Regions from separate parts of the Homo sapiens genome. Here region 1 is linked to region 2. The links come from fine-mapping of genetic effects on gene expression. Tissue or cell type: uterus. Region 2 holds a variant in brackets; the other region holds the start of a gene. All regions are shown on one strand. Distances are from middle to middle.

Region 1 (10,438 bases), 62 kb before region 2:
GTACCCCAGTTTCATCTTCAGTAAAATAAAGATTAAAAGAATACCTAACTAGTAGGAGAGTTATGCAGACTAAGTAAGTTGATACTTTTAAAGCATTATGCCTAGCATATAATAAGCAGTTTATAACTTTTTAAAAACTTTTTTATTTACTTTTAATTTTTTTGTAGAGACAGAGTCTTGCTTCGCTGCCCAGGCTGGTCTTGAACTCCAGGCTTCAAGCAATCTTCCTGCCTCAGCCTCCCAACGTGGTGGGATTACAGGTATGAGCCATGATGCCTGGCCTTATCATTTATGTTAGGAGCATTCCAATTCCACTCCTGGAGTTATTTTAAAAATATACAAAAAATTATCATTAACAATAGTCACTCAGCCGGGGGCAGTGGCTCACTCCTGTAATCCCAGCACTTTGGGAGGCTGAGGCAGGCAGCTCACCTGAGGTCAGGAGTTCGAGACAAGCCTGGGAAACATGGTGAAACCCCGTCTCTACTAAAAATACAAAAAAATTAGTCAGGCATGGTGTCGGGTGCCTGTAGTCCCAGCTACTTGGGAGGCTGAGGCAGGAGAATCGTTTGAACCCGGGAGGCAGAGTTTGCAGTGAGCCGAGATCGTGCCACTGCACCCCAGCCTGGGTGACAGAGTAAGACTCTGTCTCAAAAAAAATAAAAATAAATAACAATAGTTACTGTACTGTGCTACTGGATAACAGATCTTATTCGTTCTATCTATTAATGAACTATTTTTATAACGCACAAATTAACCACTGTGATATGGGGATCATTTGAAAATCTGTTTTCACATCATTTCAGTGTATGGATATATCTGACATTTTATCATGTACAGTTTTTTAAATATTCAATCAAAAATCGAGAACCTTGCTCTTGCACCCTATAGTCAACTGCTTTGTACTCACTTTGTTTCCTAAGTGAGTGATCTTCAGAATTCCATCTTGCCACACTTTTGACTTCTTCATCTTTTGATGAGTATATAGAACCTTATTTCCAAAAATACAAAAGAAATGGTTTCCATTTATATATATTTAATGTTATGTATTTTATATATCCTTCCTACATACAAAATATATTTAAGGCACCTTTCATCAAAAAAAGGCACATACACCCATATCAATTTTTTAAATTTTAAAAACAAAAGCACAGATAGCATGACAATAACATTAAATATTAATTAAATGAAATAAATAAGGGAAGGAAGGGAGAGAGAGAAGGAGAGGGAGGGAATAGGGGAGGAAATGGCAGGAGAAGGAAGAAAGGAGAGGAGAAATCCAAGGAAGAAACAAAAAAGATAAATGAGCATTGAAAGTAATTTGAGCTCCCTAGTCATCAATTGGAAGGGAAAAAAATTACTGGATTACACAGTACTAATAATCTGTGCAGTTCTCAAAGTTTGGTCCAGAGACTCCTGGAGGTCTCCAAGACCTTTACAGGTATCTGTGAGGTCAAAACTATTTTCATGATGCTGTCTTTTCATCCTCACTCCTTCAGGGGTGCAGAATGAAGTTTCCCAGGATTATGTATATGCAATATTGTAAGATTCAATTGCAATCTGAATGTAGAAGAAACAAATATGAGAATCCAGTTGTCTTCCATTAAGCCAAATCATAAATACTTTTTACATTTCTGCTTTAACTTCTAATATGAAAAACATCAATAGACGTAAGACCCTATATACACAAGTTATTTGGGGTCAATAATTTTCTAAGTGTTAAAGAGTCCCGAGACCAAATAGTGTGAGAACTGCTGATCTATACAGAAGACGGATGCCAGTTCTTCAAGAGAAAGAAATTGTTTCCCGGTCTCACACTTTCAAAGATTATGTTACAAAGGACTTTGTCTAATACTTGATCTTAGCCAAAAGGCTGAAAAGTGATGATTTTGTGTAACAAATATGAATAGTAGGTAACAGATAGGGTTACCAGATAAAATACTGTGCAATATTTGGGATCCTAATGCTAAAAAAGGTATGCATTGTTTATTTGAAATTCAAATTTAACTGAGTAGCCTGTTTTTTGTTTTGTTTTTGCTAAATCTGGCAACACAGCAAGATGTTTGTGAAACGCCTTTAAAAGAAAGAGACAGAGGAAGGGAATTTCACCAAACTGTGAAAAATGGTAAAACTTACAATAAATTCTTGGCTTTCCATTATTTCTTCTGAAGTTATAAACCAGCTGGGTCCAGAAAATAGGAAATATTCAACTATTTATACCACCTAAAATTAAAAATGACATAAAATTTCAACCCTGATTTTTAAAAAATATCAAATATAATTTTTCTCAATAAACTCCCAACCACAGACATGAATCAAGGAGTTCCAAGATTACCTAACTACCAAGGGAAACAGAGGTGTAATTATCTATCACTGAGGACACAGTAAAAGTGATACCATGCTGTGAAACAAGCATTTTTTCATAAGTAAAGAAAAAACTAAGTAAAATACATAAATTAACTTGTAGTCTGCATTTTTCCAGATGCATAATATGTATCAGAAAACACGAATTTGTCCTCCACATGTTTGGTTCCCTATAGCGCAAATTCAATTTTTAAAGTTTTCTGAATTGCTACGGTTACCACAAGATGGCCCCCTTGTGTTTTAAATTTTTCCTTTCACTTCTTAGCATCAATATACCACAGTATCTAGGACCAATTACATAGTACCTCTACAAGGAAAAATCTTTCCAACACTGTTGCAACAGTTACTGTAGTTGTTATGCTATTGGATAAAACTGTTTTTGTGGGCAAATTTGGAAATCTAAAATCACTGATGGTGATCCCTGAAGAAGTAAACAGAAATGCCAAAGAAACATACTTTCTTTTTTTTCCCCTAAGGTGGTTCTCAAGATGTGACCCCTGGACCAACAGTATCATCTGGGAACTAGTAAGAAATGACCTATTAAGTCAGAAAGTCTGGGGTTGGGGGCCCAGCAGTCTGTGTTTTAAGAAGCCCTCCAAGTGATGCTGATGGACACTCAAGTTTGAGAATACAGATCTAAAAGACCTAGAAGGATTCAATAAAGCTGTAATTGTGATTTCAGTTCCTCTTTTAGACATATAAAATATGCCACTTACATATTATTTATAAGTTACATATATTTATTCAGTACTTACTATTGTGCCAGATATTATGCTAAAGTATTTAAATGGAAACTCTATCCTCCATCTGAAGGAATTTCAGTATGGCGGGGTGATAAACAGTAATTTTAATAAAATAAGGCAGGAATAAGCACAGCAGGGGCACCCAGCTTGGTGTGGATCATCAAACAAGGCTTCTTCAAGGAAGTAAAGTCTAAGCTGTAAGCTGAAATAACCCTTAGTCAAGGGAAGGCCAGTGAAGGTCTTCCCAAACAAGAATTGCAGGCCTGTGATCCCAGCACTTTGGGAGGCCGAGACAGGTGGATCACCTGAGGTCAGGAGTTCGAGACCAGCCTGGCCAACATGGTGAAACCCCTGTCTCTACTAAAAATACAAAAATTAGCCAGGTGTGGTGGTGCGTGCCTATAATCCCAGCTACTTGGGAGGCTGAGGCAGGAGAATCACTTGAACCCAGGAGGCAGAGGCTGCAGTGAGCCGAGATCACGCCACTGCACTCCAGCCTGGGCGACAAGAGCAAAACTGTCTCAAAAAAAAAAAATAAAAGGGCGAGGCGGGGGCGGTGAAGTGCAAGAAAGTGACTGGCATCTTCCCTTGACTAATCAAGGTGATCTGGAGAAAGAATAGGTAAGGGGTATGCAAATGAGATATGCATACTTGCTTCGTGACACAGGTCACAGGACAGAAACCAAACCTACAGAAGGACTGCCTTTCAGAAATATAACTCCTGGCCGGGTGTGGTGACTCACGCCTGTAATCCCAGCACTCTGGGAGGCCATGGCGGGTGGATCATGAGGTCAGGCGCTCGAGACCAGCCTGACCAACATGGTGAAACCCCGTCTCTACTAAAAATACAAAAATTAGCTGGGCATGGTGGCACAGGCCTGTAGTCCCAGCTACTCAGGAGGCTGAGGCAGGAGAATTGCTTGAACCCGGGAGGCGGAGGTTGCAGTGAGCAGAGATCACGCCACTGCACTCCAGCCTGGGCGACAGAGCGAGACTCCATCTCAAAAAAAAAAAAAAAAAAGAAATACAACTTCCACATCCTATCTCCCTCCCCTCCGGCGTACATAAATTGCTGATGCCTAAGAATGCCAAGAAGATAAAAGAGAGATCGAGAAAAACACTCCTGGGCTAGATATGCTGTATACATAGATGAGAATACATGGTACAGACACAGTGCTGGGCATGTGGCAATTATTAATATCAGATCTGTTTAATAGCTACCATTTATTCAGTGCTACCATATGCTAGAAACTGTTAAATGCTTTATTTGGAGGTTTTGTTTCTGTTGGCTTTTTAACTTTTCTTTTTCTTTTACAGAGACAGGGTCTCACTCTGTCACCTAGGCTGGAGTGCAGTGTTGCAATCATAGCTCGCTGTGGCCTCAAACTCCTGGGCTCAAGCAATCCTTCCAGCCTCCCAAAGTGCTATATTATAAACATTATATACATTATATTGTTAATTATATACATTATAATTATTATGTAATTATATAATATATAACTATATTACTGTATTATGTAATATACAATTATATGATTATCGTGTGTAATTATATATATTTATTGATTACATACTATGTATCAGGCAGGAATTGGACGAGATACTTTACATACAGTATTTATCAGTCTCATAATCCTGAAGAATAAGCATTATTACAATTTACAGATTAGGAACCCAGTATTTACTAGTTTAGGATAACTTATATGCTATTTCACAATTGCAAGATAAATTCTCCATTATTTTCCTAAATTGAGATATTACTTCTGGAATGTACAGTTTAAAAAGAACTAAGAAGACTGAAACTCTTAAAGGATGGTTAAATTCGATTATAGGAGAAAACCTAAAAAAAAAAAGCTAACTGGATCTTTTAAAATTTAGAAGAGCTCTAATACTTATTCATTGAAAGTCAACACCCTTTCTTATCTTAGTATTAATCAGAAAAAATTATTTTAGACAACAGCATCATATATATTTAAGTGAGATGCAAAGAGTTTTTTCCAAGTGTTCATCTGTCCACGTCTACCAGACAATTCACCTGTTGACCGACTTCTAATAGGTGAAAGATTAATCTCCAAATAAGTTTTTAAAGACCCCAGATGCTCTGTGATAATTATATACATACATACATACACACAGATATACGTACATACACACATATACATACATATACATTGTGCTACTATATGTACGGACGCAATATATATACATAAAACTCGGTGTTCTCAGTAAAGTATGAGCCATTATTCATTTAAATACTAGATATTTTTCCTTTTTTTTTAAACAAGGAGTATTTTTTGAACCTAAACCTGAACCTCTAAATAGTTCGGATAACAAAGTTTTGGAATCATGAACTCAACATTGTTAACAAACCATCCAGTCCAAATAAACAAAGGAAACCCACATCTCATTTGCCAAGATTCTAAGAACCATAATCCTGTCACCAAATGACAATGGAGACTTGATCCTTTCTCAGTCCTAAATACAAACAGCAAAGCCCTCTTTGGTCCTCATACCTACTCGAAATTGCAAAGCAAGGCCTGGGAAAAACGGTGAAGAGGCACCACTTACTACAAGCAGTCCGAGTAGCTGTGACTGCGACCACCCCAATCCTGGTTCCAAACAGCATCCTTCCCGGTTCTCTTCTTAAGGAGCAGAGTCTTTCGTCCCTTCGCCCCAAATCGCTCAAGTCATTCCTAGGAAATCCCGAGAAACACTTCACCTCACCTGTCAAATTGCACAAAATCCACTTTCGAATTTCTCCCGCGAAACAACGTGACGTCATTAACGCGGGACCTCACCAGATGAGGACCCAAAACTTGGCCCGCCCACCTCCGCCTAAGCCAAAAACCGCCGCTTTCAAATCGCCAATCAAATTCTTCCTTGGCTTCGAGTCTCTCAGCCGGCCGCGCTCTCCGATGCCCAGCCCTCCTGGAACCACCTCGCCTGTGACGTAGGTGGAGCGCGCACTGCCTCCGGGCCCGTCTTTCTCAATTGGGACCGGAAAACGTTGTCGCTCATCCTATGACGCGAAAGTAACCGAGACTATCAGGATCCGGAGACGGAAATGTCCGAAGGCCGCAGTACTTGACCCTGTATTTTGGGAGTCGAACGGAGTAAGTTACAAGCGGCCTATAGGGTCGCACAGCTTGGGCGAAGTCTAATTAACTCTCCGTCCTTTTTCTTGCGGTCCACTCTATCATCTATCGTCCTTCTTACCCCGCCCCCCCGTCCTGCACACCCATCAGTTCCTTGGCCTAGTTATCTATGCGCACGCGCAAAAGTCTTCGGCAGCACTTGTAGTTCCCGTTTTCAGACAGTAAGGGCGCATAGGGGCCCGGCGTGGGGAGGTTTGGGGCGCGCCCGGCCTATGACGGCGTCCTTGCGGAAGTACGGGTGCCGAGAGAAGCAGTAGTCAATAAAGAGAGTGCCGTATTTCGCAGATTGGAGCTGAGCTGTGGCTGCCAGAAGATAGCGAACGTGAGGATTTATATTCTAAAATTATCATCTTCTTTTGCAGGACTCTGCCATCGTCCTCAAAGAGTAAAAAATCCAGTTACGGAAGGGAACTAACACTTGCTAGATATGGTGTGCAGAGTGCGTTTGCAAAGAAACTTAAGAGAAAACAAATGATAGGACACAGGGTGGTGGAAGATCTCAAAGAGTAAGATGCCATTTAACCTGGGCCTTGAAAATTTAATAAGGAAATTTAGACGAGAAGATTCAGACAAAGCAGAACACACAGGCCACTACGTGTTGAGGGACTTGAGTTGTAAGCAGTGACCAGAACAATGATTCTTAACCTGTTGTGGCACACTTCTTTTGAAAACTTAATTATATGGATTAGCTTCTCAGGAAAACGTGCATGTACCTATTAAAACATTTTGCGAGGCTGGGCACGGTGGCTCACGCCTGTAATCCCAGCACTTTGGGAGGCCGACGCGGGAGGATCACTTGAGGTCAGGAGTTCGAGACCAGCCTGGCCAATATGGCAAAATCTCGTCTCTACTAAAAACACAAAAATTAGCGGGGAGTGGTGGTGCACACCTGTAGTCCCAGCTACTCAAGAGGCTTGGTTGGGAGAATCGCTTGAACTCGGGAAGCAGAGATTACAGTGAGCCGGGATCGCGCCACTGCACTGCAGCCTGGGCCACTGAGAGAGGCTGCGTCTCCAAACAAACATTTTTCATATAATTTCCTCAGGAGAAATTACGAAATACTTTTAAATAGCAAACACACACAAATGACTTGGTGTCTTGTCTGACTCACTCTTCCAAGTTATCTATGTCTTTCGTGGTCTTTGAACTATTTTTCAACCCTGTAACTCGCTACAGCAACATGGAAATTAGGTTTGTCCAGTAAAGATGCAATTAATTATTGTCCTGAGCAGTATTTATTAATATTCATTTCAACGTTCCTGATTGCCTGTGTACCTGCTTTTTAAATTCTCCTTTGAACTGGTTTTTAGCACTTAACTGGTTCCCTTATTTACAGTCAAGCACCACATACCGACAGACCGCATGTATGACAGTGGTCCCATAAGATTATAGGTGAGTAATAGGCAATAGTACCTAGGTTTGTGTGAATACATCATAGAATAACTACATACTCAATGATGTACTTACTCACCTGACTGTGCATTTCTCAGAATGTGTCCTTGTCGTTAAGCAACCCATGACTGTGCTTAAATCTTTACCGTGTATTCATTTTATATTTGTACAAGAGTCTTGATTTTACCTTATCTTTAAAATGTATCATTTACAATTTAATGGAGCCCACTAGAATTCTTGTCCAGCCAAAGTTGCATGGACTTCAGATTAAGAATTCCTGAGTCAGAACATAGAGTCCGTGGTGATAAATTGCGGGAAATTCTACCAAAAGGTAGACAATGTGGGATCAAACATACCTGGGACAACTTACTTAGCTAGCTTTGGCCAAGTCACTTAAACCTTTTTGAGTTTTTGTGTTAAGATGGAAGAAACTGCTACCTAGTGGGATTGTGAGGATTTACAAAAGTGTATATAAAGTTACTGGTATTGTTACCCAATAACTTTTATTCTTCATTTAAAGCCAGTTAAATGTTACTTTTTTTTTTTTTTTTTTTGAGACGGAGTCTTGCCCTGCCGCCCAGGTTGGAGTGCAGTGGCACGATCTCGGCTCGCTGCAAGCTCCGCCTCCCGGATTCACACCTTTCTCCTGCCTCAGCCTCCCAAGTAGCTGAGACTACAGGCGCCTGCCACCATGCCCGGCTAATTTTTTTCTTTTCTTTTTTCTTTTTTTGTATTTTTAGTAGAGACGTGGTCTCACCTTGTTAGCCAGGATGGTCTCCATCTCCTGACCTCGTGATCCGCCCGCCTTGGCCTCCCAAAGTGCTGGGATTACAAGCGTGAGCCACCGCGCCTGGCCAAGTGTTACTTTTTTTTTTTAAAACAGTGTTTTCATAAACTGCATATTATGTTACGGGAAGGTGCTAAGGAATTTCTAATGTTGCAAGTTTTGACAGAAGCATCACAAAACCAGGTCTGTGTTTTAGATGGGTTATACATAGGCTCCTGTTGAGAATGGGTGACTTACAGAACAGTTTATAAACTATTGGCATATTCTAGTGACAGTTGTAGCAGTAGTTGTAGAAAACACTGGATGGAGATGAGAGCCATTTCAAAAGTCAAACTGATAGGATTTAACAAGAGATTGGATAGAATAATTGGATAGAATTATTGATAATTGGATAATTATCAATAATTTATAATTATAGATTATCAATTATAGAATTATAATTATCAATTATAGAATAATTGATAATTATAGCCTACGTTTGTGTTTGTTCGTTTTTGAGATGGAGACTGAATCTGTCTCCCAGACTGGAGTGCAGTGGTACGATCTCGAATCACTGCAACCTCTGCCTCCTGGGTTCAAGCGATTCTCCTGCCTCAGCCTCCCGAGTAGCTGGCATTACAGGCATGGGCCACCACACCCAGATAATTTTGTTATTTTTAGTAGAGACTGGGTTTCACTTTGTTGGCCAGGCTGGTCTTGAACTTCTGACCTCAAGTGATACACCTGGCTCGGCCTCCCAAAGTGCTGGGATTATAGGCGTGAACCACTGCACCTGGCCTATTTGTATTTTATTTACATCCCACAACCTTACAAAGAATTTGAAATGCTTAACACTTTACAGGTACTTTTAAATTTGTTTTTTTATTCAACAGATACTTAGGTACTGATGAAGTTAAAGTTCCTGCCTTCATAGTGTCTACATTCTGGTGGGATAGGTAGACAATAAAATTAAAATTCCAGGCCGGCCATGGTAGCTCACACCTGTAATCTCAGCACTTTGAGAGGCCCAAATGGGCAGATCACTTGAGGTCAGGAGTTTGAGACCAGCCTGGCCAAAATGATGAAACCGCATCTCTACTGAAAACAAAAATTAGCAGGGTGTGGTGACAGCTGCCTGTAATCCCAGCTACTTAGGAGGCTGAGGCAGGAGAATCACTTGAACCTGTGAGGCAGAAGTTGTAGTGAGCCAAGATTGTGCCACTGCAGTCCAGGCTGCACAACAGACTCCATCTCAATAAATAATTAAAAATAAAAAATAAAGTTATAATTCCAGGTAGTGACAACAAGATACAAGAATAAAAAATAGTGACTGAGGCAGTGGACGGAGTTAAGGTCAGCAGGGAGGGAATATTTTAGATTGAGCGGAAAGAGGTAAGTCTCTCTAAGAAGTGACATTTGCAGAGACCTAAGTGAACAAGGAAGTAATTCATACAGATACGGTAAGGAAGGTAAAGGGAGCAACAAGGGCAAAGGCCCTGAAGTGGGAATGGCTTTAGCATGTTTAAAGAACGAAAAGATGGTTGTTATGTTTGGACTGAGCCTGTTGGCAAGAATTGTGATAGATGAAATTAGAGAGATCCCCAGGCCAGATTATTTAAGATCCAGTCAACCACAGTAAGGTTTTTGGACTTTATTTTGAGTGTGATAAGAAACCTCTGAGCTGGGCGCGGTGGCTCACACCTGTAATCCTAGCACTTCGGGAGGCCAAGGCAGGCAGATCACCTGAGGTCAGGTGGCCAACATGATGAAACCCCGTCTCTACTAAAAATACAAAAAAAAATTAGCCAGGCGTGGTGGCACATGCCTATAGTCCCAGCTACTTGGGAGTTAAGGCAGGAGAATCTCTTGAACCCAGAGGGGGAGGTTGCAGTGAGCCGAGATCGCGCCACTGCACTCCAGCCTGGGTGACAGAGTGAGACTCCGTCTCAGGGAAAAAAAAAAAAAGAAACCTTTGGAGGAGTTTGTGTAAGGAATTGGCATGATCTGATTTACATATT
Region 2 (10,438 bases):
AGCACTTAGCCAAAATAATAATGAGCTACTTATTCAATCATGAGGGAACACAAGAATACAAATATGATCTTTTATAAACTAGTGATAGAATTTAGCTTTATTGTGCTATGGTTACTCAGTTAATGGGCAAACCCTCTGCAACACTTGTCAGTTACAGACTCCTCATAGCAAATAAGTGGCTGTAGGGAAGAAAGTCACAGAAGCACTTGCAAAAATTTTAATTAGAAAAATGTGTATAAAAAATAGGTTTAGCAGAGTTATGCTTTATGGGCCAAACAGGTTTCAGTTCAGTTTAATTTAACCAGGCTTCCTAAATTTGTTTTTTACCTCTTTCCATTCAACAGAGCATAAATATTAAATGTTATATAAAATATATTTCACTTGAATGCTTTAAATACAATGCAAAATTTGAGCACAAAACAATGCATTATGGCCTCATGAAGAAATTTACAAAACATTGTAATGAAAAATTAACAGCTTCAAGTAAGTACATAGTACTATACAAATGCTTGTCCAACAAATGCCATTTTAAACAGAGGAAGAAAACGCGACCAGTCTGGGCAACATGGTGAGACCCTGTCTTTACAAAAAATATGAAAATTATCCGGGTATGGTGGCAAGCACTTTTAGTGCCAGCTACTTGTGAGGCTGAAGTGGGAAGGTCACTTGAACCCGGGTGGCAGAGGCTACAGTGAGCCTAGATGGCCCACTGCACTCCAGCCTGGGCAACAGAGCGAGACCCTGTCAAGTAATGGATAACCCCACAAGACTGCCTTATAGCCTGATCACGGTACCTGGCAATTTGTAGAAAGCAACACTTATAACCCATTTTAGCATTCCTGATTGAGCTGTCTGTACTTTCACATGAGTTTTGAGCTTATTCATCATCTTGTTGATCTTTCTTTCCAGCCTGGCAGATCTGGCAAACTTGTCCATCATATTGACCGCGGATAACTCTTGCTTCATATCCTGGATCTCTGCTTTGGTCTGCGACTCCTGTTCTGCATCCTTGCGCTGCACCCTGGACATAAAAGAGAAGGACGGGAGTAGGATCTGAAGGACACTGCACCCAAACAGGAATCTGAGCACCAGCAGCCACGCCCAGTGGTTAGCCTTAGCCGTGCCCATGTTAGACGCTCCTGGTGGCGTAGGCACCGTTAGCTATGGTAGCTCCATGGGGATCATGTTGGCATCCACCTATATTGCAGTTCTGAAATGATAACATTTTAGAAATGATGGACAAAATGGATGCCAAGGTTTAAGAAGAAGTGTTTATAAAAGGGCAACACGAGGTCCTCCAGGTGTTGAAACTGTTTAATAACTTGCCTGTGGTAGGTGGATACACGAATCTACAAAGGTGATAAAATTGTATAGAACTTAGTACACACACACTTGCAAGCAGGGACAAATGAGTATAAGTAACACTGGAAAAATCTGAATAAAACTAGTGGATTGATAACGTAAATATCATGGTTATGGTATTACACTATAGCTTTGTAAAATGTTAACATGGGGATAACTAGGCAAAGTGTGTAAGGGATCTTGCTGTGTTATTTCTTACTACTGCATGTAAATCTACAATTACCTCAATAAAAACCTCAACTCAATAAAAAATGTCAGGAATCCATAGTTTCTTTATATCAATATTGTGTCATCATATCATATTTTTGTTGTTGTTGTTATTTTCTGTTTTTGTTTTTGTTTGAGACAGGGTCTCTTTCTGTTGCCCAGGCTGGAGTGCAATGGTGCAATCATGGCTCACTGCAGCTTCCATCTCCTGGGCTCAAGCGATTCTTTCACCTCGGCCTCCTGAATAGCTGGGACCACAGTGGTATGACACCATGCCTGGCTAATTTTTAAAACTTTTGTAGAGACAGGGTTTTGCTATGTTGCCCAGGCTCACCTCAAACTCCTGGGCTGAAGTGATCCTCCAGGCTTGGCCTCCCAAAGTGCTGAGATTACAGGTGTGAGCCACCATGTTTCATATAATATTTTAATTATTATATATTTGTTATGTAAGGTTTTTGTAGGGTATCAAATATTATAAAAATGAAGTCGATTTACTGATATGGAAACATGCTATATTGTAAAGTTAAAACAAAGGACCTTGTCAAGTAGCATGTATAATATAATCCCCAAAATACACTTGTCTTTGCAAATACATGTGCTAAGAGTTTTGAAAGGATAAAAAAGAAGCAGTTTACAGTAGTTACCTCTGGGGCATGGGACTACAGGAATAGGGAGTGAAGGACACTTATTTTTCACTTTATGTGTAATTCTTTCTTTTTTTTTTTTTTCTTTTTGAGACGGGTCTTACTCTGCTGCCCAGGCTGAAGTGCAGGGGCATGATCAGGGCTCACTGAAGACTCAATCTCCCTGGGCTCAGATGATCCTCCCGCCTCAGCCTCCCGAATAGCTAGGACTGCAGGAATGCACCACACCCAGCTAATTTTTTAATTTTTAGTAGGGATGGGATTTTGCCATGTTGCCCAGACTGGTCTTGAAATCCTGGGCTCAAGCTACCTGCCTTCCTCAGCCTCCCAAAGTACTGGGATTACAGGTGTGAGCCATGCACACAGCCCATTTTATATGTAATTCTGTAATGTTTGTATGCTATTTACCATGAGCATGTACTACCTTTATAATTAAAATTCTACAAAAAAAAATTCTAGCTTAATAGCAATGTAAAATTTTAATAAAATTTTGTAAAACATTGGGACATACTTGTAAATATGAGGGTAGAAAATGTCTGTAATAACTTCAGGCAATAAGGTAGCAACATGTTGTCACCTAAAGACCAATGTGTTCTTCCAAATTTGGCTGCTCTATAAATTCTATTAGTTTGAAAAAGCCAAAAAAGACTGAAAAAGGAGAAAAATAATTCTTTTTTAAAGTGCTTATGTTAAAAAAATGCCCAGTTCTAGTGCTCTTTCCATTTGTGATTTCCTCAAATCATAAACAATTATCATTTATTTAATGCCTATATTCATAGAACATATGCTAAGGTTATAAGTAAGCATATGATACCCCCCTGACATGAAGATGTTAATAACATAGCTACTGGGAAATAGGACATATGCATAAAAGATAAATAACTATACAATAGGCCAGGAGCGGTGGCTCATGTCTGTAATCCCAGCACTTTGGGAGGCAGAGGCAGGGGATCACCTGAGGTCAGGAGTTTGAGGCCAGCCTGATCAACATGGAGAAAACCCGTCTCTACTAAAAATACAAAAATTAGCCAGGCATGGTAGTGGGTGCCTATAATCCCAACTACTAGGGAGGCTGAGGCAGGAGAATCACTTGAACCCAGGAGGCGGATGTTGTAGTGAGCTGAGATCGTGCCACTGCACTCTAGCTTGGGTAACAAGAGCGAAACTTCGTCTTCAAAAATAATAATAATAGGTCGGGCGTGGTGGCTCACACCTGTAATCCCAGCACTTTGGGAGGCTGAGGCGGGCGGATCACAAGTTCAAGAGATCGAGACCATCCTGGCCAACATGGTGAAACCCCATCTCTACTAAAAATACAAAATTAGCTGGGCGTGGTGGTGTGTGCCTGTAGTCCCAGCTGCTTGGGAGGCTGGGGCAGGAGAATCACTTGAATCCAGGAGGTGGAGTTTGCAGTGAGCCAAAATCGTGTCACTGCACTCCAGCCTAGCAACAGAGCAAGACTCCGTCTCAAAAAATATATATAAAACAAAAATAATAATAATAATAACTATACAATACAGCATAAGTATTATGTGTATTATACAAGTACTACATATATATTATATAAGTAATATACAAGTATTATGTATATTATTTGGTTGCTATAGACAGTAAATTATCCTAGGATGAGGTAATAGCAAAAGTACAGGAAAATCCAATCATGCTTTTGGCAGAAGATAGAATAAATTTGGGATTTTATTTAAGATTGAGTAGACTGATTCAGCTGAAGAAAGGTTTATGTAGAGAAGAGACAGGAAATAAAGTTGGAAAGGAAGGATGGAGTCTTAATGTGAAAAGCATTGAACATCAGCCACCTGACAATCAGTCTATATTTAATATGAATAAAACTTGGTTCAAGATCCATTTAAGCTAGAATATCTAAATTTCAGACTATTGATTTGTTCTGTGTAGCTGAAACTCCTACCCTTTTAGTTGATTAGTATTAAGATTGTTTTGGACCTTATTTATATTGATTTGAAATGTTTATTTGGGAGTGGGCCCAATTCTCTTTAGAGATTTATTACCCAGCTGGGCGTGGTGGCTCATGCCTGTAATCCCAGCACTTTGGGAGGCCGAGGCAGGCAGATCACGAGGTCAGGAGTTTGAGACCAGCCTGGCCAACTTGGCGAAACCCCGTCTCTACTAAAAATACAAAAATCAGCCGGGCATGGTGGTGGGCTCCTGTAATCCCAGCTACTCGGGAAGCTGAGGCAGGAGAATTGCTTGATCCCAGGAGGCAGAGGTTGCAGTGAGCCAAGATTGTGCCATTGCACTCCAGCCTGGGTGACAAGAGCAAGGCTCCATCTCAAAAATAAATAAAAAACAAAACAAACAAACAAAAAACATTAGCTGTTGTTGTTGTTGTTGTTGTTTTGTAAAGAGATTTATTACCCCTTTCAATTTTGCACAGATGCTAGTCAGGTGAAGAAGAGAGGTGAAGGCGTTCTACGCAGATGGAACCCAGGATATATAAAGCCAGAGTCACAGGCAAGACTGTCTTCTGAGGAGGGAGAACGGCAGGAACACACATGAGTGAACGGCAGAAGGAAACCAGCTCAAAAGGCCAGTTATGGAAAAAATTGGAAATGTCATCAAAGTGGGGCCTGGGTGGGGGCAACTAATAGCTTGAAACAATTTTATTATAGAGACAATGGAGCCAGTAATATTTGCTTAAAATATTATTTGAATGGCTGAATAACATTCTATAAAACATCCCAATATGTGGAAGCTTCATAATGTATGTACTCAATCCTCTCTTTTAGAATATTTAGCTGATTTCCAGGTTGTTATTGTTTATTTATGTTTTATCTATTATAACCAGTGCTACAATGAAAATCTTTGCTAGGGTCCATGGTCACCATGTAGACCAGCCTGGTCAACATGGTGACGTAGAGGTTGCAATGAGCCAAGAATGCGCCATTGCACTCCAGCCTGGGCAAAAAGAGCAAAACTCT[G/C]TCTCAAAAAAAAAAGAAGAAATGCTGAAAGATTATTTTACATATAACCATAAAATTTATTCTAATTTATTTGTTTATTGAGACAGAGTCTCATCCTGTCGCAGAGGCTGGAGTGCAGTGGCAGCATCTCAGGTCATCGCAGCCTTCATCTCCTGGGTTCACGTGATTCTCCTGTCTCAGCCTTCCAAGTAGCTGGGATTATAGTCGGGTGCCACCAAGCCCGGATAATTTTGGTATTTTTAGTAGAGACGAGGTTTCGCCATGTTGGCCAGGCTGGTCTCCAACTCCTGACCTCAGGTGATTCACCTGCCTTGGTCTCCCAAAATGCTGGGATTACAGTCATGAGCCACCACACCCAGCCTTTTAAATTTTTAAATAACGATCAGTCTTAGGAATATCTTCCCTAATGCAAAAAGTATATAAATATTTAGAAGGGTTTTTATTTCAAAGCAAAGGGATGCAGATTTTATCCTGAAGCAATAGAAAGCCATCAGGGCTGTTTAAACGGGAGAGTTTTTGAAAAGAAAGTTACTCTGGCTGAATTTTGCTGGGTGTTCCAGGATAGGAAGAACTCTGGGATCATTATTAAGAAACTACAACAAAACACTGAAAGAGTGGCTGAAAGCCTCGACTAAAGCCAAGGATACAGAAAAAAAAAGAAGCAGGAGACTACCATATTAGAATTCACTGGGTGTGGTGAGTCATAGAACCTGAGAGATGTAGAGAGGTCTAGGATGACACTAAAGTTTCTAGCTTGAGTGATTTGGTCGATGGTAAAAATCTCCATCTAGGCTAGGAACGAAGAGAATGGAGCAGGTTTAGAGAATTTGTGTAGATGGACACATAGGTAGGATAGATGACAGAGAAGGGTTGCATTGTATTTTAAATCTCTCATATTTTAGGCACTGTCACTCAGGGTGAAGTGCAGGGGCACGATCTCAGCTCACTGCAGCCTTGATCTCACCAGTTCAAGTGATCCTCCCACCTCAGCCTCCCAAGTAGCTGGGACGACAGGTGTGTGCCACACGCCTGGCTAATTTTTTTTTTTTTTTTTTTTTTTTAGACGGAGTCTCACTCTGTCACCCAGGCTGCAGTGCAGTGGCGCGATCTCGGCTCACTGCAACCTCTGCTTCCTGGGTTCAAGCGATTTTCCTGCCTCAGCCTCCTGAGTAGCTGGGATTACAGGTGCTTGCCACTATGCCCGGCTAATTTTTGTTGCTGTTGTTGGCTGTTTGTTTGTTTGTTTGTTTGTTTGAGACAAAGTCTTGCACTGTCGCCTGGGCTGGAGTGCAATGGCGAGATCTCGGCTCACTGCAACCTCCACCTCCCAGGTTCAAGTTATTCTCCCGCCTCAGCCTCCTGAGTAGCTGAGATTACAGGCTCCTGCCACCACGCCCAGCTAACTTTTTGTATTTTTAGTAGAGACCTTGTGATCTGTCTGCCTCGGCCTCCCGAAGTGCTGAGATTACAGGAGTGAGCCATTGTGCCTGGCCCAATTTTTGTATTTTTAGTAGACGGGGTTTCACCATATTGGCCAGGCTGATCTCGAACTCCTGACCTTGTGATCTGTGCGCCTTGGCCTCCCAAAGTGCTGAGATTACAGGTGCGAGCCACTGTGCCCAGTCAATTTTTGTATTTTTTGGAGAGATGAGGTTTTATCGTGTTGCCCAGGCTAGTCTTGAACTCCTGGCCTCAAGCAATTCACCTGCCTCAGCCTCCAAAGTACTGGGATTACAGATGTAAGCCACTGTGTCCGTCCCATTAGAGGATTTTAGGGAGAGATATGAAATGATTGGGTTTATATTTAGAGATAATTTTGAATGACTTGCTAAGAATAGGTGTTAGAGTTATAGGTAACTATTACAATAATCCAAGAAAGAGGGGACTGGTGGCTTGGACTTTTCTAAGCAGCGGTGTATGACTGGGAAATAGGTTCTGGGCATACTTTGAAGACTTGGTCAACAGAATTTTCTAATGGACTGGATGTGTGTATGAGAGAGAGTAGTCAAGGATGACTCCAAAGTTTTGAGGTGAGCACCTGGAAGGATACAGTTGCTATTTACTGGGATGGAGAAGGCTGCTAGAGGAGTAGTACATAGCTTTATGCATGCTTAGTCTGAGATGCTTCCCAGATTCCCAGATATCTAGGTGGAGATGGAGAGCAGTCAGTTGGCAAAAGGGGAAGCTGCAGGGCCAGACATCTGATTTGGGAGTTGTCAGCTATAGATGCTATTTAAAATCATGGGAATGGCTGGGCGCGGTGGCTCACGCCTGTAATCCGAGCACTTTGGGAGGCCGAGGTGGGCGGATCACCTGAGGTTGGGAGTTCGAGACCAGCCTGACCAACATGGAGAAACCCTGTCTCTACTAAAAATACAAAATTAGCCAAGCATGGTGGCACATGCCTGCAATCCCAGCTACTAGGGAGGCTGAGGCAGGAGAATAGCTTGAACCTGGGAGGCGGAGGTTGCGGTGAGCTGAGATCGCGCCATTGCACTCCAGCCTGGGCAATAAAAACAAACTCCGTCTCAAAAAACAAAACAAAACAGACAAACAAACAAACAAAAAAATCATGGGAATATGTGGGATTAGCTGTGGAGTGAGCATAGACAGAGAAAAGGGGTCCAAGGGCTGGGATTATGGATTTTAAAAAAGCAGCCCATTAGGCAGAAGGAAAACCAAGACAGTGTGTGGACTCCTGGAAGTCAAGTGAAGAAATTTATGTCAAATAAATATGTTTTGAAGATAAGTCAGACAAGAACTGACCAAAATTGACCAAAGCAACAAAGATGGAACTGGAGGTCATTATGTTAAGTGAAACAAGCCAGACACAGAAAGACAAGTATTGCATGTTCCCACCCATAAGTGGGTGCTTAAAAATGTGTATACATAAATGTAGAGAGTAGAATGGTAGACAATGGAGATTTTGAAGGGTGAGGGGGTGGGAGGGGGCTGGAGGATGAGAAGTTATTTAATGGGTACAATGTACGTTATTCGGGTGATGGATACCCTAACAGTCCTGAATTGACCATTACGCAATGTTTGCATGTAACAAAATTGCATGTGTACCCTCATACATTTATCCAAATAAAAAAAAAATCCAAAACAAAATAGACCAAAGTATATGACAACATGGATGTGAGTGGCAACACTGACAAGAATAGTTTTGGTGAAATGGTAAGGAGGGAACCTGAAGGTAGTGGATTTAAGGCAGAAATAGCAAGTACAGACTACATTTCAGAAAAAGTTTTCTATACGTGGAGCAGAAGCATGGAATTACAGAGGGACAGGGATGTATGCTTATGGGAACGAGCCAGTAGAGAGGGAAAATAGATGATACAGGGGAAAGTGGGAGCCAGAGGGAGAGAGAGGAGGGAGAGTACTTATAAGAATGATGTTCACAAGTAAATTTGAGGAGATCTGATCAAGTGCCCAAGTGGAGGGCTTGGCCTCTCATAAGAGCATGCACAATTCATTCATGGTAAGAAGATAAAAGGCATCATTCGGCATATGGGCAGATGAATATAATAATGGTGAAGAAACTATGTGGAAGCTCTCTTTTCACTTCCTCTGTTTTCTTGGTGAAATAACAAGGTCATCAGTTGAGAATGAAGAATCCAGGCCAGGAGTGGTGGCTCACACCTATAATCCTAGCACTTTGGGAGGCTGAGGCAGGTTGACTGCTTGAGGTCAGGAGTTCAAGACCAGCCTGGCCAACATGGTGAAACCCCGTCTCTACTAAAAATACAAAAATTAGCCAGCCATGGTCACGTGCACCTGGGATCTCAGCTACTCCAGAGGCTGAGGCATGAGAATTACTTGAACCCAGGAGGTGGAGGCTGCAGTGAGTCTAGATTGCTCCACTGCACTTCAGTCTGGGCAAGAGTGAGACCCTGTCTCAAAAAAAAAAAAAAAAAAAAAATTCAGGGGCAGCACTGGAAGTTTGAGGAGAGAGTTGTTAATGTGTTAATGATTGTCTTGAAAAGTGGGAGAATCAATTTATTAAGGAAATATGAAGGATTACCACACGCCAACAAGGGCCCACTTGAAATTAGTGTCCAGCAACACTGAGACCTCTCAGCATTTTTCTCCAGGTGTATATTGCATGGGTGCAGGCTTAGAGTAGATGGAAAAATGGATATAATTGAGATTTCATTTTGCCAGGTGAGTATGGCAGAGGGAGAAAGAGGCAAGTTGAAGTACATACAAGGCAGTGGTTGTAATAATATAATAGTGGTTCATGGAATCCAAATTGAGTTAGGAGGAGGATGGGGACGTGCAATGGAGTAGGGATAGTGTGAAGATAGTAGGGCTGCAGAGTTGGAGGTTTTAGTGGGATTACAGAATTATTGGAGATAGGGTAGTATAGGAAGTCAGTTGGAAAGAAAGTAAGTGATGACCGGAGAATGGAATGCTTGATAGTGTGGTCATAGAGAGGGGACAAATATCAATAATAAAAAACCCTAGGGTATGAACATGGGAGTAGACAGTGTATATCTGGGGTGGGGTGGAGGTCAAGTCATTGCAGGTTAACAGGGGCATTGTCTAATTGTCTATGTGGATTTATTTTATTTTATTTTATTTTTAAGATGGAGTCTCATGCTCTCACCCAGGCTGGAGTGCAGCAGCATAATCTTGGCTCACTGCAACCTCCACCTCCCAGGCCCAAGCCATTCTCCAGCCTCAGCCTCTCGAGTAGCTAAGATTACAGGCATGCATCACCATGCCAGGCTAATTTTTTTATTTTTAGTTGAGACAGGGTTTTACCATGTTGGTTGGGCTGGTCTCGAACTCCTGACATCAAATCATTCACCTGCCTTGGCCTCCCAAAGTGCTGAGATTGCAGGTGTGAGCCATTGCACCCGACCTATGTCGATTTTTAAAAAATTAACAAGAATTATGACAAGGATATTGCTGAAGAAGAAGAAAGTAAGGTTTTTAAGGCCTTCAGGAAATGTAAATGTCTGTAACAAAGAGAAGTTGCGGTGGTCTATCATGATTTTCAAAGCAGTTGGATTTTTTAGGGGAAGAGGTAGGGACAAGAGTCTAGACGTAGCAGTTATAAGCAAAGATGAAGCTCATCCCAGGGTCTGAGAGAGAAGGAGGGCTATTGGAAGATAAACAGCCACCACCCAAGAGGGCTTCAGAGACCACTACAGTAGTCTCCATTTTGCATAGTTTCCTGGTAAACCCAAATGATGCCTTTCCTGGAGCACTCTTCACTGTTGTGGCAAGCGACAAGTGAGACTGAGACTTGAGTCATACCTCAAC

Evidence for each region. PIP is the estimated chance that this variant, and not a neighbour inherited with it, causes the effect.
Region 1: it holds the start of ZGRF1, and the variant in region 2 is fine-mapped to the expression of ZGRF1 in uterus (GTEx, PIP 0.96).

Annotation. Positions count from the first base shown.
Region 1 is chr4:112,631,020-112,641,457 of GRCh38, forward strand. ZGRF1 (zinc finger GRF-type containing 1) reads right to left here and starts at 5,890. Exons shown (of 28, transcript NM_018392.5): 1 at 5,832-5,890; 2 at 2,137-2,223; 3 at 911-991. The coding sequence starts at 2,157. It overlaps LARP7 (La ribonucleoprotein 7, transcriptional regulator), which reads left to right and starts at 6,124. Exons shown (of 13, transcript NM_016648.4): 1 at 6,124-6,220. RefSeq lists enhancers at 5,687-5,906, 6,477-6,526, 6,567-6,676.
Region 2 is chr4:112,692,665-112,703,102 of GRCh38, forward strand. It overlaps the pseudogene GET1P1. Among named protein-coding and RNA genes, the nearest start is that of MIR302CHG, 48 kb to the left of the region's middle. The variant G/C (reference allele first, on the strand shown) is at 5,168.